Linked DNA regions of Homo sapiens: region 1 is linked to region 2. Evidence: fine-mapped expression QTL. A gene starts in region 2. The other region holds a variant in brackets. All regions are shown on one strand. Distances are from middle to middle. Region 1 has its middle 100 kb from the start of LMO1. Region 2 holds the start of TRIM66 (tripartite motif containing 66).

Evidence for each region. PIP is the estimated chance that this variant, and not a neighbour inherited with it, causes the effect.
Region 1: its variant is fine-mapped to the expression of TRIM66 in transverse colon (GTEx, PIP 0.93).

Annotation. Positions count from the first base shown.
Region 1 is chr11:8,367,154-8,370,090 of GRCh38, forward strand. It overlaps a transcript of STK33 not described here. Among named protein-coding and RNA genes, the nearest start is that of LMO1, 100 kb to the left of the region's middle. The variant C/T (reference allele first, on the strand shown) is at 1,363.
Region 2 is chr11:8,681,276-8,684,126 of GRCh38, forward strand. It overlaps TRIM66 (tripartite motif containing 66), which reads right to left and starts at 1,390. Exons shown (of 25, transcript NM_001388022.1): 1 at 1,326-1,390. RPL27A (ribosomal protein L27a) reads left to right here and starts at 1,517. Exons shown (of 5, transcript NM_000990.5): 1 at 1,517-1,541; 2 at 1,927-1,990; 3 at 2,731-2,806. The coding sequence starts at 1,539. RefSeq lists enhancers at 947-2,146, 1,010-1,079, 1,280-1,469, 1,796-2,438 and a silencer at 1,590-1,789.

The DNA of each region.
Region 1 (2,937 bases), 310 kb before region 2:
AGCGTGTGTGTATAAGTTCTGCTTCTACATCATGTTTGTAGACAATGGAGGGCTTATATCTGTGCGCACTATGCATGCCAAGGTTATGTGTGTGAGTCCTACGTCTGCAAATGCTGAGGACAAAGTATTTGTACCTCCTGTATCCATGCAGATTGTGAGTGCGTGGGTATACATTGTGTATATACACGCATCATTGTACAGATGTGTACAAGCCCATGCTGACGTGTGTTCACATCATTGTACATTCATGTTCTGACTATGAGATATGGGGACCACAGGCTCCTCTCTGCTTCTTTAGGTACTGAGGTTCTGCCCCTGAGCCCAGGACTCTAAGGGTAGATCTTCCTGCACTGTGACATGGACCTGATGCTGCCTGAACTTCAGCTGGGTCTTGAAGAATGAGTAGCAACTCACCAAATAAATGGAGTAGTAGAGAAGGGAAAGGGGTTCCAGACTAAAGATGCTTTTCAAACACAATGATTGTTCTGAGTGTGCTACACACACTCACATAATCTTCACAGCAACCCTACGAAGTGGGCACTATCACCATTCCTATTTTACAGATGAGGAAAATGAGTTCTAGAGAGTTTGGTAGCTTGCCCAAAGGCACATGAGGCTTGAAAATGGTATAGTCGGGATTTGAACATACACTCATACATTCACATACACACAATGATATGCACATTGAACATGCAGACAAGACAGTGGACACACTCATCACACACACACACGTATACACAGTGCACACGCCCAAACCCAGGCTATCTCCAGGTGTTCCCATCTGTCCAGAGTGACTTGGGCCAGAGCTCTGGCTCAGCCCTAGCTTCTATGGGGTGGTGGAGCAGGAGGGAAGGGCAGCGAGCATGTGATGAAGCGGGACTGAGGGATATAACTGAGGGTGGTCTCCATCCTCTAATCCTACTCCTGCAGCCAAGCAGCAGAGGGCGGGATCCTCCCTGCCCATCACACCCAAAGAAGTGGACCCACTTCAAAAACCTCAGTATAGTCTCACTTCCTCCATCAGCTATGGGGGAAGGATTCTGTCCACCCTGTCCCTGCATGGCTATGGAAAGGACTCCCTGGGAAATGGGAGACCCTAATCCCCCACCCGGGCCTCCTGTGTCCCCAGTTTCCTCAAGAGCCAGCAGTCACTGAGTTTCAAAAACAAGATACCTGAAAGCTGCTGCCTGTCCCATGCACGATGTTGCCTCTTGCCCAAGGAGGGTCCCTGAGAGCGATGCTGTCCTTGGCCTGTGCCATCAAGGTCGAACTGGGCCCTGGCTACCCCCTCACCCTCAGCAGACCCAGGATGGGCAGCCTGCCCAGCCCAACAGCGCCAGAATGCCCGGCCTGTCGCCTCTC[C/T]CCTGGGCTCTGTCTCTTCTTAATTAATAGAAAGCCATTGTGAATACTAAAGAAGAAATTAGCACATGCCAGTCATTTCCGGGTGTTTATAGATTTCTGGATCCATCTCTAATTAACCCCTCCAGTTCTGAAGCCCTGCCCGAGTGGCAGGTTCTTGCCTCCCCTTGGATGGGAGCTTGGCCCCTGCCCTCAAGGAGCCCCAGTCTGGTTAGCCTTGTTTCCCTGCTTCAAAGTGACTTCCCATTAATCTCAGGATCCAAAATAACTTACCGCATTTCCCCCGGGGAGGGCCCCAACCACCTTAAGACATTGGGTGGTCAGATCAAGACATGAAATAAGCATGCCCTTTCACCTTCAAATCCACATCTGGGAATTTATAGAAAGGAGCTGATCACACAAACGAGCAGTGTGCTGAGGCAGCCCCATTACACAGCTGTTACCACCGCAGAAGCCATCAGCGTCTGCGTCCATCTGTATGGAATGCCGGTTAGGGGACAGAGAGAGCTACTGGGCAGCCATGGAAGGGTCGCGATACACATCTCGGTTCACTGCCATGGGGACATGTCCTTTATGCACTGTTTTGACAAAACTGCAGGTTACTAAAGTGTATTTATAATATGACATTTACATAAAATCATATTCATTGAGAGAGAAAGAAGGCTCAAGAGGCAGGTGTTTTGAAGTCAGGATAATATGAACACTTATCATCTCTGGGTAGTGAAGTCACTTTTTTTTTACCTTCTATTTTTACAGTTTTCTGTGGTGTTTGGGTTTTTACTCTGTGTGTGTGTGTGTGTGTGTGTGTGTGTGTGTGTGTATAATCAGAAAATCCAGCCAAGGTGTGCTATACGATGGCACAGGCAGCTCCAGGAAGCCCCAGGGGCAGTGGGAGGGGCTGATGGGATCTTCAGATCTAAGAGTGGGGACAGAGGGAGCTTCCAGAGAATGAGGAGGCTAAGGGAGTCCTGCCTGATGAAGCTTCTTTGTCATTTGTGTGGAAAGCTTCCTTGCAGGTGGGGGCAGTGGGGCCTGGGGAGGGAGGGTGGGGCAGCACCTAGCCTCAGTTCTCCCACCTCCTCTCCTCCTCCGCCTCTGCAGCCAGTGGGAGGGTGCAGCTGGCCTGAGTGGGGTTCCAGAGAGCTCTGATGCCGGAGCTTAGCAGGCCTGATCTCTCTTCCTGCTGACCCCAGTTTCTTTATTTGTAGAATTCTGAACTCTCACTGCTTGCAAATTCCTGAAAGGCTGAGCTCCAGCAAGGCCCCAGGACCTTGGTTGCTGTGCATGCCCTCTGCACAGCTAAGGATTGGGGCTGGGGGCTAGTCTTTGAGGCTTGAGATGCTAGGGCTTTAGCCTAAGGGGCCAGCCCAAGGAACACTGTCGCCAACCTGCACACCAAAGGCTCAGTCAGTGAGTGTTTCTGAGTGAGAATTCAGAGCCCTGGATGGGGGATGCCAGAGAGAGGCAGTTGTCTGATCTGAGTCTCTGTCTCAGGCCCTTCCGTGTTAACAACAGCCCCGTTCTGGTGCTCCAGCTACACCAATGAAGGCAGGAGGAGACCCCGTCTGAGGGGCCACC
Region 2 (2,851 bases):
GGCGCCCACCACCACGCCCATCTAATTTTTTGTATTTTTAGTAGAGACGGGGTTTCACCGTGTTAGCCAGGATGGTCTCGATCTCCTGACCTCGTGATCCGCCCGCCTCGGCCTTCCAAAGTGCTGGGATTACAGAAGTAAGCCACCACGCCCGGCCAGAATTTTGGATATTTTAGCTAAAATATATTTTAGCTGAAGGGGGCAAGACAAAGAAAAATAAATAAATACACGCTCACACATACACACAGAGAATAACTGAGGGGATGGGATTTTAAAAATTTATTTCATTTTTCCCATGGGATCTATTAATAGACTAGCGAGGGGATGGGATCTTGAACACTGGTTGAAGGAACCGACTTAAGAGCGAAGACATGCTGCTATTAGCGAAGACAGGGAGGTGAGGGTAAGTTCATTTATTCACTCAACAATCACTAGTTGAGTGTGGATTAAAAAAAACAGTCCTTGACCACATAAGGAATTAGGTCTAGTAGGGAAGACAAACGTAGGTCAATAAATTACATAAGGGTTATACTAGATTGTGTGGTGGTACAGGTGGGGAAGCGAGCAACTGTCTGCATTGTGTCCAGGAAAGGGTCACAGGCGTGTTATGTAGATTCTGGAGAAAATTCAAAAATAGCATTTATTTTTACTTATTTACTTTTGTATGTGGAGACGAGGGTCTCACTATGTTGCCCAGGCTGGTGTTGAACTACTCGCCTCAAGAAATCCTCCCGCCTCGACCTCCCAAAGTGTTGGGACTACAGGTGTGAGCCACCGCGCCTGGCCTAAATGTGGCATTTAGAAAAAGTATTTACAACATCTGCATTAAAAGGACCATAAAGCAACCAGGCATCTAAGTCCCTGAAGCAATTTAAGTTGCTCAAACTTGAGAGGACAACCAAATGATAGCAAAAGGGCAAAAGAGAAAGGAAGCTGCAGTGCCCACTCAGAAGTGTGAGAGCGGGAGAAGGCATTTCGGGAGCCGCCCGAGCTTCAGGAAACCGAGCGAGACACCAGGTGGGCACACTGAGGATTAAAGAGGGCCTCGCGGTTCCGCACTGCGGCCGGGAGACAAACCAGTAGCCACTATCACCAGCCCCGGGCAGACCACTAAGAACTGTGGAGGTGCGCGGGGCGGCTCAGGGCTGGCGCATTTGGTGAGGAGCTCAGACAACGAGGCCCTTAGGGTCGGCTTAGGCGGTTCCCTGACCAAGGCGCCAGAAAAGGGCCTGGCTCAAGCAAGCACGGGCGGCGTGCAGTACAGCACACCTAGCCCCGATTCTTCAACAGTTCTCGCCCTCCGAGCCTAGCACAACGAGCCTCACCGAAACCGTACACCGCCACCAGGACACTCCGTGATGGGGGATCACCACCCTCAGAAAGAGGAAGCGACTAGCAGGCGCGCAATCCCGCGAGACCAGGAGGCCCCGCCCGAAGCCCGGCCTCTGTGACCGGAAGTGAGGCGTTTTGCCCCGCCCCCGTGGCCGATACCTCGCGAGACTTGGCGAAGGCCTTCCTTTTTCGTCTGGGCTGCCAACATGGTAGGTGTTTCGTTTCTTGCCTCCTCTTCCTTGCCGGCGGAGACCCCTAAGCTGTATTCCCATTGCCCCTAGTCATCCACTCCCTACCATGGTCGGGGCTTCCAGGCTGCGCATGGCCGCCTGCGGGGCAGGGTGGCCGGCGCGGGCCCGGGGCGGGGCTCCCGGAGCCGTGTGTTAGGCCCGCGGTTCGGATCTCTAGGACACGCGGGCCCCTGCGCTACCGTGGTGAGACCTCACGGCCCTGAGCGGATCGGTACCCTCAGCTTTCCCAAACGCTCCAGAAGTTAGGTCTTTGACCCACAGGCTTACAGGACCATCTCGGCTGGCGGGCATCGCCCCCTGCCCCTAATTCCTTAGGCCTTACCACCAAGCTTTTTCCACACAGCCATCCAGACTGAGGAAGACCCGGAAACTTAGGGGCCACGTGAGCCACGGCCACGGCCGCATAGGTAAGTGCCGGCTTCCCCTCGGGGTGGGCCTTGGGCTCTCTTCGGGTGCTTAGCTAGTCTGGAGATCGGTAGCCTATAAGTGGGTTAGAATAAGACCTTTTTGTGGTCAAGTTGCACAGCTGTTGATTTTTTTCTGACGATCCTCTAGTATTCCAGTTCTAAGGAATTTCACATCAGTGGGGTAATAGGAATTGAGCAGGCACGGTATTGGGTTAGTTGAAGACATGGAGTACTGTGGGAATGCTGTGATGTGGAACCTGAAAAGATGTTTCACCCGGAATCCTAAAGTAATCGCATTGCTGAAAACCGGCATCGGTAGGGTGGGAACAGCGTAAGCGGGACACAGAAGTCTGGGAAACACTCTGCTTTTGTGCGAGGAAGTATTGAGATGCATGAGAAGGCTGTGTGGTGCATGTAGCTTTTTTGTGTGTGTGTGAGACTGATCACTGTCGCCCAGGCTGGAGTGCAGTGGCGAAATCTCGGCTCACTGCAACCCCTGCCTGCCGGGCTCAAGCGATTCTCCTGCCTCAGCCTCCCGAGTAGCTGATATTACAGGTGTGCGCCACGACGCCCGGCTAATTCTTTTTCTATTTTTAGTAGAGTCGGGGGTTTCTCCGTGTTGGCCAGGCTGGTCTCGAACTCCTGACCTCAGGTGATCTACCCCCCCTCGTCCTCCTAAAATGCTGGGATTACAGGCATGAGCCATCACACCGGCCCCACGTAGCTTTGTATTCCTGCAGGCAAGCACCGGAAGCACCCCGGCGGCCGCGGTAATGCTGGTGGTCTGCATCACCACCGGATCAACTTCGACAAATAGTAAGTGTCCTTGGACTGCTTTTATTGACACAGCTTGGGAGGTAG